Homo sapiens: one gene and its partners. The protein of the gene in region 1 purifies or fractionates together with the protein of each later gene. This does not show direct contact. Each region holds a gene or a part of one and is shown in the gene's direction. Other genes may lie near its edges. The genes, in order: MKNK2, CELF1 and TUT7.

Region 1 (3,649 bases):
GTCCTGGGGCTGGGTCAAGAAATGACCCAGCCCCAGCCTGCCCAGTGCAACAGGCCTGGATTTGAATCCTGGCCCCCAGGGCCCAAGGCGGCTTCCTTAGCCGGGTATCAGGGCCCACCAGGGGCTCCCTCCAGGGGTGTCTGGCACTGAAATGGGAGAGTGCAGGATGTGGTCTGGGCAGGGCCTGGCACACTCGCGCCTGTGGGTGCCTCTCCCGTGAGCCCCCAGGACCAGTACAGCACTGTGTATACTGACTCGGTAACTGGTAGCTGCGGGGTTGGGGGGCTGGAAGCAGATGAGCCTCTGGTGGGTGGCGGGGGCGTAGGTGCACAGAGCTGGCAGGGGAAAGGTGTGCCGGGCAGCTGCGGGACATGGGCGGAGGAATGCAGGTGTCTGGGCTTGGGTAGGGGCAGAAGGCAGGGGTGATGGAAGCAGAGCCCCCACCTTCAGCAGGCCCCAGAGCACCAGGCACTGAATTCTTACCCCGCCAGCCCCAGGCACTGAGCGAAAGGGAGGGGAGCAGCTTAGGGGAAGGAGAGGTGGTTGTGTGCCATCTTAGATGGGGGAAACTGAGGCCCAGGGAGGACTCAGCTGCCCTGAGATGGCCCAGGAGGCCGTGGGAAAGCAGGCACAGCCACCAGGCTGGCAGCCCGCCTAGTGACTCACCTCCTTCCCACTGCCCCGCTGCCTTTGATCCCCGCGACCCGCCCCAGAGGTCAGCCGTCCCCATTCTGTGGACAAGCAGACGGAGGTGCAAGACACGGCTTGGGCCCCACGGTGACTCAATCCTGGCATCAGAGGCAGGGTTCCCAAGAGCCAGCTGCTTGTGTCTGTCCCCTCCCCGCAATGCACCCCTTTCCCAGAGGCCCCCAGGGCTCTGCAGGTGGGAGGAGGTCTTCCCCACGGCCCTGTGGAGGTTGGGGCCCATCTTTCTCTGGGGTGGGGCTGTCCTGGGCACTGCAGGGTGCTGAGCAGCACCCCTGCCCCACCCCACTCCGTGCCAGGAGCTCCCCCAACCGGTCACAACCACAGATGTCCCCAGACATGGCCCAGTGTCTCCTGGGGGACAGAATCACCCCCTGGGTTGGCAAATTCCATGGACCCCCTAAGAGACTCTGCGTCCCCTGATCTTGCCTTGCTGAGGTGCTAGGAGGCCTCACGCCTTCCACATGTGGCCCACACCTGTGATCCCAGCACTTTGGGAGGCCAAGGCAGGAGGATCGCTTGAGGCCAGGGGTTTAAGACCAGCCTGGGCAACGTAGCAAGACTTTATCTCTACAAAACATAAATTTAAAAAAGAGAGAAATCCACACACACACTGAGTGTGGGGCAGCGAGGAGGTGAATCCCAGGAGCTTGGGGGTCCCCTGGTTTATGCTGTCTGCCCCTTCGGGAGTTGATCCTGGTGGGAGTTGATCCTGGTGTGTGAGCGGGGACGGAGTTGATTTTTCCGTAATGCTCAGCGCAGGGCTTGTCAGTGTGGACGCTGCGACACTGGGGCAGGATAGGTCTCCCTGCTGCGTGGGCAGGGATGGGGCCTGAGTGCCTCTCCTCTCCTCTCCCCTGCAGGGGCAGAACCCCTTCGAGCTGGCCTTCTCCCTAGACCAGCCCGACCACGGAGACTCTGACTTTGGCCTGCAGTGCTCAGCCCGCCCTGGTGAGGGGCCCGAGGGGGAGGAGGGCACAGGGCAGCTGCTGTCGCTGCCATGGCAGTGGCCAGCCCCTGCAGGGGGGTGGGGGCCGGCCGGCCAGGGCCATGTCCTGAGCCCCCTGGGCGTGCCTCCTGGAACAGACATGCCCGCCAGCCAGCCCATTGACATCCCGGACGCCAAGAAGAGGGGCAAGAAGAAGAAGCGCGGCCGGGCCACCGACAGCTTCTCGGGCAGGTTTGAAGGTGAGCGGGGATGGCGGGCATTGGGGGAGCCGGGAGCGGGGAAAAGCCAGGGTCCCTCTCACGCCCGCCCCGCTGCCCGGCAGACGTCTACCAGCTGCAGGAAGATGTGCTGGGGGAGGGCGCTCATGCCCGAGTGCAGACCTGCATCAACCTGATCACCAGCCAGGAGTACGCCGTCAAGGTGGGCCCGCGCCGCGCCCTGGGGAACCCAGCGCCTTGGGATCGGTGTTGAGCGGGGGTGGAAACAGTGTGTGGCATTCCGGCTGTCCGTCCTACAGCCGGGAAGACCCGTGTCTAAAAGTGGCCACCGGGCCCTGAGTCCAGTCGGGAATGACAGTGAGGGTGGCCCCTCTGGTACCAGGGTGGGGGCTTCAGACAGAGGCACTGTGCCCATTGGGTCCCCTGGGCCGTCCCTGCCTCTGAGCTGTCCCTGAGGGTACATGACAGTTTGGTTTCAAGGATCAAAATGCAATGTCATATCCCAGGGCCCAGAGGGGCTCTGCGTTTGGGGAACCTCAGTGCAGGCCCGTGAGAGCCCCCTGTGTCACTCTAGCCCTGGGCGGCTGCTGGACCCAGGGTGTGGCCGAAGGGCTGGGAGCAGGAGCCCTGTTGAGGCTCTGGTTGTGACCCTGTGACCTTGTGGGCCGGTTGGATCCCGTGTTCCAAGAAATCTTCCAGGCTTCCCTCGTGACCTGGCATCCGGCTCCCGGGCTGGGTGGGGTCCCAGGAGGGCTGGCTGCCTGGGAAAGAGGGCCAGGTGTGCCCTGGCGAGCAGGGCTCGCCAGGAGCCTGTGGGTCCTGGTGGACGGCCAGGCTAGAGCTTTCCTCTGAGGAGAAGGAGGAAGAAGAGGGGTGGCCAACCTGGGGAGGTTACTGGCTAGGTGCTGGGACCACAGTGGCAGCAGGCAGGGACAGACACAGTACGGACGGTCCCTGCCTCCTGGGAGCCCCCAGGCAGGCCAAGGCAATGGTGCAGGAGCACTAGGCCCCTCCGGAAGCACTTCCACACAGCAGGCGTTCCTCTGAGCACAGCCCTCTCCTGGTGGCCCAGCCTTGCTTCCTGTCTTTGTTTGACAGATAGGGACACTGAGGCTCAGGGGGTTAGGTAGCCTGACTCATGCTGTGTGGCCTCTGGGGGATCCTAACTGGTGTCTCAGAGCCACCTCCCTGGTCATCTTGCCACATTGACCTGGTGTGGTCAGTGTTGGGATCTGCAGAGCCTGGGGGACTTCCTGCTGGAGGTGTTGTTGGCCACTGACGTCCGGGAGTTGGTCTGGCCAGGTGGCAGTGGGAGGAGGAGGTGTCCTGGGCGAGTCAGAGAGGCGAATCGCTGGGCCTGTGGGTCTGAGGAGCGTTGTTTCGTTCTATGGGGACTGGGGTGTGGGCCCTCTGCCCTCGGGGTCATGCTGCGGGAAGCCACCCTGGGGTCACCTGGTGCCGTGAGGCTGCTGGCTGGATGCAGAGCCCCCATGCTGGGACCTCAGAATAGGCCCCTTCCATGCCAGGAGGGGCTGCGCCCCCTCCCTGAAGCAGCATTCTAGCCAGCCACCCAAGGGACAGGACGAGGTTCAGTTTTGTCCAGAACCATCTGCAGTGCCTGCTGGGCACAGCTTTCAGCAGCGGCCTGGGTGGTGGTATTTCAGGACACCCTGGCGTCCAGTTGTTCTCTTGCCCCTCGCTGGGACAGTGTTGTCTGTCAGTATAGACATGGGACTGCAGAGGCAGGAGCCAGGGACTCAAGGGTGGAATGCCACAT
Region 2 (3,649 bases), on another chromosome or scaffold:
GTGAAGTTAAAAATAATCATGAGGGCCAGGTGTGGTGGCTCACACCTCTAATCCCAGCACTTTGGGAGGTCAAGGTGGGCGAATCACGAGGTCAGGAGATCGAGACCATTCTGGCTAACACGGTGAAACCCCGTCTCCCCTAAAAATACAAAAAAATTAGCTGGGCCTGGTGGCGGGCGCCTGTAGTCCTAGCTACTTGGGAGGCTGAGGCAGGAGAATGGCATGAACCGGGGAGGCAGAAGTTGCAGTGAGCCAAGATTGCGCCACTGCACTCCAGCCTGGGTGACAGAGCGAGAGTCCGTCTCAAAAAAGCATGGGATTTTTAAATCAGACCTGAGTTAAATCCCACCTGTGTCCGTTAGCTAGCTATAACTTCGGACCACCTTTCTAAGGACATTTTCTCATCTTTGAAGTGGGAATAATAGAATACTTTGAAGGATTGTTAAAAATTAAATGAGGCCAGGTACAGTGGCTCATACCTATAGTCCCAGCAGTTTGGGAGGCCAAAGCAGGGGATCACCCTAGGTCACAAGTTCCAGACCAGCCTGAGCAACATAGTGAGAACTCCATCTCTACAAAAATTATCTGGGTGTAGTGGTGCATGCCTGTAGTCCCAGCTACTTGGGAGGCTGAGGCCGGGAGGATTGCTTGAGCCTGGGAGCTTGAGGCTGCAGTGAGCTATGATTGTACCACTGAACTCCAACCTAGGTGACAGAGTGAGACTCTGTCTCCAAAAAAAAAAAAAAAAATTAGAACATAGGTAAAGTGCTGCTGAGCACATTGCATAGTACAGTAGATGACACATAGAATGTACTTAGTACCTGTTAGTTGCTGTTTTAATGGTAGGGTTCACCCACATCTTGTCAGAAATCACATGTACCCCTTTGAGTTTGCAGTCTTGGGCCTCTTCTTTTATGACATTCTAGCTCATTATGAGAAAGTGGCAGAATAGCCAGATAGAAAATGGAGGCTCTCATTCCACAGATTGGATGAAGGTAATGGGGAGCACAACACCCGCGTATGGCATTTCTTAATGTCCCCATTAGCAAGGCCTGGTGAATGTCCTGAAATCTAGCCAGTCAGATAGTTTCTTCTCAGGGAGAAACTAAGAGGGAGATAAAGGGGAGAACTTTGGAGTTTTCCCTCTTCTAGATGTCCCAAGTAGACTTGTCTTTGGCATCAGTTTAGTCTTTCTAGTATATTAATCCTTCTCTTCCTCCAACCAAGGAATGGCTGCTTTAAATGGTGGCCTGGGCAGCAGTGGCCTTTCCAATGGCACCGGGAGCACCATGGAGGCCCTCACTCAGGCCTACTCGGGTATCCAGCAATATGCTGCTGCTGCGCTCCCCACTCTGTACAACCAGAATCTTCTGACACAGCAGAGTATTGGTGCTGCTGGAAGCCAGAAGGAAGGTGAGTGCAAAGGGAGATCGGGGTCAGGTATGGGGGGCGGTTTTCCTCCTATACCAGAACGGAAAGGCAGAGCAAAGGCTGAGGGAACCAGTTAGGTCGTCAGACCATTGTTTTTCTTTGACAGTGTCAAGTGTAGACTGAGAAACCCTGTGAAGTGTGATCTGCTTTTTAAATGTTTTCTGGATGTGGCTCAAATCAGAACCTCTGTGTGCCCTCTTGGGATGGGGCTGCAGTTTTTAGATGAAGCAACAGACACTGACCTTATCGGGTCTGACACATTTGACAAGAATGTTTCTGTTAGGAGGTCTTCTCTACAGATTACAAATCTATCAGAGGATCTTCTGTCTGGATGTCTTCTGTTTCAGTGTCCCTTTTAGCTATATCATTTGGCATTTTCCTCACTTTCTGATTGATGTTTGTCCTGATTGAAGACAAACTGAGGGGTGATGGGACAGAGTTTGGCCCATGAGTTGATGGAGTGGGAAGTATGTCGTTTGACACAAATGGTATTCAATTTAGGAGAAAAATAGGAGAGACTCTTTAGCCAGAAAGAGGCCTGAAGGTGACTTACATGAATAGAAGGTCCTGCTGACACCTCTGTGCTCAGATTTGACTGGGTTTTTATAACCAGGAGCTGGTATAAGCACTAATGTAGGAAAAAGATGAGTGTCCTCTTGTCACAGCAGAAAGTCCTGGTTCATCTCTCCTCACCTGCTGTGAATCACTTATATCCCCTAGGGATGTGGTAGTAGGAGAATGTAGCGTGAACCAATATTTTAGTGGAGACTGTGGAGACAGACAATAAATAAATGAAAGCATGAGGTGTTTCAGATGATCCTCTGGAGAATGACAAGCCGGGAAGAGAGATAGGGAGTGTCAGAGGCACTGCATTTTATGCAGAATGCTCAGAGAATGTCTCTCTAGATTGACATTTAAGCAGAGAACTGAAGGAAGTAGGAAGCAAGTCATGCCTGAATCTAGAGAAAGAAGAGTAACAGGGGCATAGGAAAAGCAAGTACAGAGGCCCTGAGGCAGCAATGTTCCCTGATGTGTTTGAAAAAAACAGGGAGGCCAGGGTGGCTGGAGAATGGCTGGACTGCAATTGTAATAAAGCTTTTTGGTTAGAAAATCATTGAGTAGGCTGGGCGCAGTGGCTCGCGCCTGTAATCCCAGCACTTTGAGAGGCCAAGGCAGGCAGATCATGAGATCAGGAGTTCGAGACCAGCCTGACCAACATGGTGAAACCCCATCGCTACTAAAAATACGCCAGGCATGGTGGCGCCTGCCTGTAATCCCAGCTACTCGGGAGGCTGAGGCAGGAGAATTGCTTGAACCCGGGAGGCGGAGGTTGCAGTGACCTGAGTTCACGCCACTGCACTCCAACCTGGGCAACAGAGTGAGCCTCTATCTCAAAAAAAAAGAAAGAAAAAAAAAGAAAATCATTGAGTGTAAATAGTCAGATGAAGAATGTATATTCTGTTTTTAAGCTCAGTGTTAATCATGGGTGCATTTTTAAAACTAATTTCTTATTTTCCCATTTACATATGATGAAACTCACTGATTTTGGCATACAGCTATATGAGTATTGACAAACAGTCCTAGTCCTGCAACCATCACCACAGATTAGGAACATTTCCATCACCCCTAGAAATTCCCTCGTGCCCCTTTGTAGTCATTCCCTGCATCTGGCAACTACCAATCTGTTTGCTGTCCCTGTGGTTTCTAGGCATTATTTGGAAACCTGTTTTGTTTATAACCCCTTTTCACCTCCTCTTCTGTGTTCCTCTCTGAGCCTACAGTCTCTGTTTTCCTGCTCCACACACAAGTCGGCCTGCTTTATTATCCCAACACTCCTCCTCCTGCGGGTAGAATTTCTCACATCCTCAATGAGATGGAGCTTGGCTGAATGTGAGGGAAGGAATCTGTTTTAATGTTTGCCTTTGGTTCCTTGCTTTGTATTTAGAGAATCTGTTTAGTTCCCCAGATGAATCTCTGTTTTTAGGGATTGTGACAGTTTTAACATAGGTGGAAATGAAAGATCACTGGTGCAGGGCGACGAGCATGTTTGACACTGATACTTTTCCAATTCCTGGGTATTTTGAAGGTCCAGAGGGAGCCAACCTGTTCATCTACCACCTGCCCCAGGAGTTTGGTGATCAGGACCTGCTGCAGATGTTTATGCCCTTTGGGAATGTCGTGTCTGCCAAGGTTTTCATAGACAAGCAGACAAACCTGA
Region 3 (3,649 bases), on another chromosome or scaffold:
ATAGAGTTTTTGCCTAAGAAACCTGTAATAAACACTGAAGTTAGATGCAGTTTTTTTGATAATGTTTATAATGATAAGCAAACTAAATGAGAATGGATACATCTCTAAGTAAAAGAAGTGCTTATCTGAAAAAAAAAAATTGTTCAGACCAGAAATACTGGCCTTAAAAGATTATGATAATTTAATTGGGAGTCGGGGGAGTATTAAAAAGGAAATATTAAGGTAGCGCAAGGTAGCCTGATTTTCTGTTGAAATGACAACTTACCTTTTAGTATTTTATTTGTTCAGTGTATTTTGATTGATTTTTTAAAACTACTTTTCCAACACTTTAATTTTTTTTAATTTTTTAATTTTCTTATATTGTGGAAGGTGTTTGCAGAATTTTGAGATAGTCATCTCAGGTAGTTTTAGCACAATGCTTGCTGCTTATCCTTTAGCGCTCTCAGCAAGCTTTTTATAAAATTGGAGGTCCTATATTTCCTTTTCAGCCTGCCAGTTCATTGTAATTGCCATACTAGTAGTAATGAGTTCCTCTGAAAACTTGATGGAGGAATTACTTCATGTAGGGCTTTTCAGTAGGTTTATGTTTCCAAGCACTAATGTGTTACTAATAGTTTCATTTTTTAAAACTCGATATAAGTTATCAAAGCTATCTAAAACAATTTTTTATGGTTTAATCCCACAATCACTTTAACAAGTTGAAAAGTTATAAGTTTTAAAAAGGAACAGGATGATTTTTATTCATTATAAGGATTATAGAACTAATAGCAGAGTTTATAAACAAATGTACTTAGAGAAAACTTTTGTTTCAATGGCCAGTTGTTTTTTTCCTTTGAAATATGCTCAGTGTACAGGCCATTCAAAGAAGCTAAAATGAAGGTAAAGGTAAAATGAGAGATAGTTGTCCTTAGTAAATAAAATTTTGGCTTGGACTTCTTCATATTAACGGAGGGACCCGGCTTAGGTGTTATTGATGGCTAAATTTGCAACTAAATGATGATTTTTCACTCCAGATGAGTATATAGTTGATTTCTGAGTTGTCCAGGGGTACATTTTGCATTTTGCCTTATTGAGATTGTTCACTTATAGAAGATGAAAGCAAATGTGGCTGGTTTTAATGAGAATAACAGGTGTACTTACAGATATTATAGAATATGTAAGATATATTTACAATATGTATTGTAATATTTTAATATAATAGAATTATAGATATACTTGCCTTCAGAGTATAATTTTTCTGTTGCTTTGCTATGCTCAGCAGTATACCAGGAAGAGATAATAAAAATCAAATTGTATGATTGAAGTAGAATTCTTTTAAATTTTCCAAAAAGATGATTTCTATGGCTTAATGTCTACAGGTGATGTGCTCACTGAATACAGTATTAAAGCATTTTGTCCATAGGACAGCTACCTTTCCTTCTGCTCTGCATGCAGATGTGATTTATTCTCTCACATGATTTAATACATATGTAAGGTCTGCTTTTTACTCAGGAGTGGCATTATTTAATATTGCCAATAATATTTTTCCCCCACCTTAAGAAAACAAGAAGCAGAGGTCCAGACCTAGGAAGCCACGGAAGACTAGAAATGAGGAAAATGAGCAGGATGGAGACTTGGAAGGCCCTGTGATCGATGAGTCTGTACTTTCAACGAAGGAGCTGCTAGGCTTACAGCAGGCTGAGGAGAGACTGAAGAGAGACTGCATTGACAGGCTAAAAAGGGTAACATCCTTATATATATATTTGTTGGTTAGAATCCTGGTTTTAGCCTCAATTTTGTTGTTAATTGAGTATGCATGCTCTGATCAATTAGATATCCTACTTTGGTTATCAGTATTTAAGCACTACAAGTTAAAAGTGATGTCCAGTGTGATTTAATAGGATTAGGAGTCATTGCTATTATACTTAAAATGACTGTTAGGGTAGTGATAAAGGGAACAATAACAGTAGCAATTTTAAAAGTGAAGAAGAAGCCAGGCACAGTGGCATGCCTGTAGCCCCAGTTACTTGTGAGGTTGAGGCAGGAGGATTGCTTGAACTCAGGAGTTTGGGGCTGTAGTATGCTATAATGGTATCTGTGAATAGCCAGTTCACTCCAGCCAGGGCAACATAGTGAGACTCCTGTCTCTTTAGAGAAAAGAAATTGAAGGGGAAATCATTTCCTGGCTGATTTTGTTTATCTGAATGTTTGGTTTTACTTATGTCTCTCTCTAAATAAATCTCTTCAAATTATAGCGACCACGAAACTACCCTACAGCAAAGTACACCTGCAGACTCTGTGATGTTTTAATTGAATCCATTGCATTTGCCCATAAGCATATCAAGGAAAAGAGGCACAAGAAAAACATTAAGGTAAATTGAATGTAACCCAAACAAGTCTGCTTACTTGTTAGTTGTTATTACTTGTCATCTTTGTGGCTTTCTTCTCCTTAAGGCTATGATATTGATAACTTTACTGCTTTATTTATTGAATATATTTGAGCCAAAATACATAATACTGGTCAGATGTATTTTACTGGTTAATCTTGTGAATTTCCTTAAGGGCAGCATCAGGTTATATGAAGTCATTGATAGGACCCAGGTATATGTCCTTATACTAGTATTAAAGCAAACAATGTTTGTAAGTGCTGTTTTTAATATTCTTTCCTTACACTTTCTCCTTATGCCCACCTATCCTCTGTTACCACTGATCCACATTATGTGCATAAGGAAGTATGTATATGTTTGATAGGATGAAAACTAACACAGCTAAAATGAGAAGGGAGGGCTAAGAAAAAGAAAACTCTATAGGGTGTTGTCTTCATGAGTGGTAGAAGGTCAAAACTATGTGTAAGTCATTTTTAATCTCAACATTTGATCTTAAAAGGAGAAGCAAGAGGAAGAGTTGCTCACTACGTTACCCCCACCAACACCCTCCCAGATAAATGCAGTTGGCATTGCCATTGACAAAGTGGTACAGGAATTTGGCTTACACAATGAGAACTTGGAACAGAGGCTGGAAATTAAACGTATCATGGAAAATGTGTTCCAACACAAGTTACCAGGTATTTTCTAGATTTGTTTTTCTATTTAACTACCTAAAAGTACCTCATTCATTTCTCCTACCAATAGTAATTTTCATCAAATAAAAATTTATTTACCATGTCATGAAGCTCTTGTGTTTTCTATTTTTTTGTTTTTTGTTTTCCCTGGCTTTCCCTAAGGTAACAAGGACTTTCATATGCATTGTCATTATAAACCTGTTTCCATTATAAATTTTACCCTGTGTGTGAACTTTAAGTTGAATGCCCTGCATTATTGGGGCACTGTGGGACTCTTGTGTATGTATGTTTCCCTTTCCGCTCATCTAAATTGACACCATATTTTGAGTTAAAATCAAGAGAAGTATCCTGAAGTTATTTTCAGGTTATTCATGTCAAAAAAAAAAAAAAAGATTTTATTTAACTGTACTTAAGAGAATTGCAGCATCTAAAATGAACTTTGAAAACTAGTTTTAAGAAATTTGTATTGGATTTTGTGCACTGTTGAATTGATTTTCCAAGTTATGTCTGTCTTCTGCCTGTTTTTAACTTTAGACCTTTGGCATGATGGGGAGGGGGCACAACTATTTGGAGTGTATTACTATGAAAATTTAAGGTCAGGTATGTTCA

The links.
Region 2: the proteins of MKNK2 (region 1) and CELF1 purify together in Homo sapiens (affinity purification with mass spectrometry; one large-scale study listed by BioGRID and IntAct). This does not show direct contact.
Region 3: the proteins of MKNK2 (region 1) and TUT7 purify together in Homo sapiens (affinity purification with mass spectrometry; one large-scale study listed by BioGRID and IntAct). This does not show direct contact.

What each region holds. Positions count from the first base shown.
Region 1 is NC_000019.10:2,044,611-2,048,259, reverse strand, and holds part of MKNK2 (MAP kinase-interacting serine/threonine-protein kinase 2), read left to right. Parts: intron 1-1,568; coding exon 1,569-1,656; intron 1,657-1,791; coding exon 1,792-1,893; intron 1,894-1,976; coding exon 1,977-2,074; intron 2,075-3,649. UniProt on the Homo sapiens protein: Serine/threonine-protein kinase that phosphorylates SFPQ/PSF, HNRNPA1 and EIF4E. May play a role in the response to environmental stress and cytokines.
Region 2 is NC_000011.10:47,473,100-47,476,748, reverse strand, and holds part of CELF1 (CUGBP Elav-like family member 1), read left to right. Parts: intron 1-1,227; coding exon 1,228-1,413; intron 1,414-3,517; coding exon 3,518-3,649. UniProt on the Homo sapiens protein: RNA-binding protein implicated in the regulation of several post-transcriptional events. Involved in pre-mRNA alternative splicing, mRNA translation and stability.
Region 3 is NC_000009.12:86,344,371-86,348,019, reverse strand, and holds part of TUT7 (terminal uridylyltransferase 7), read left to right. Parts: intron 1-1,539; coding exon 1,540-1,721; intron 1,722-2,234; coding exon 2,235-2,351; intron 2,352-2,865; coding exon 2,866-3,043; intron 3,044-3,649. UniProt on the Homo sapiens protein: Uridylyltransferase that mediates the terminal uridylation of mRNAs with short (less than 25 nucleotides) poly(A) tails, hence facilitating global mRNA decay. Essential for both oocyte maturation and fertility.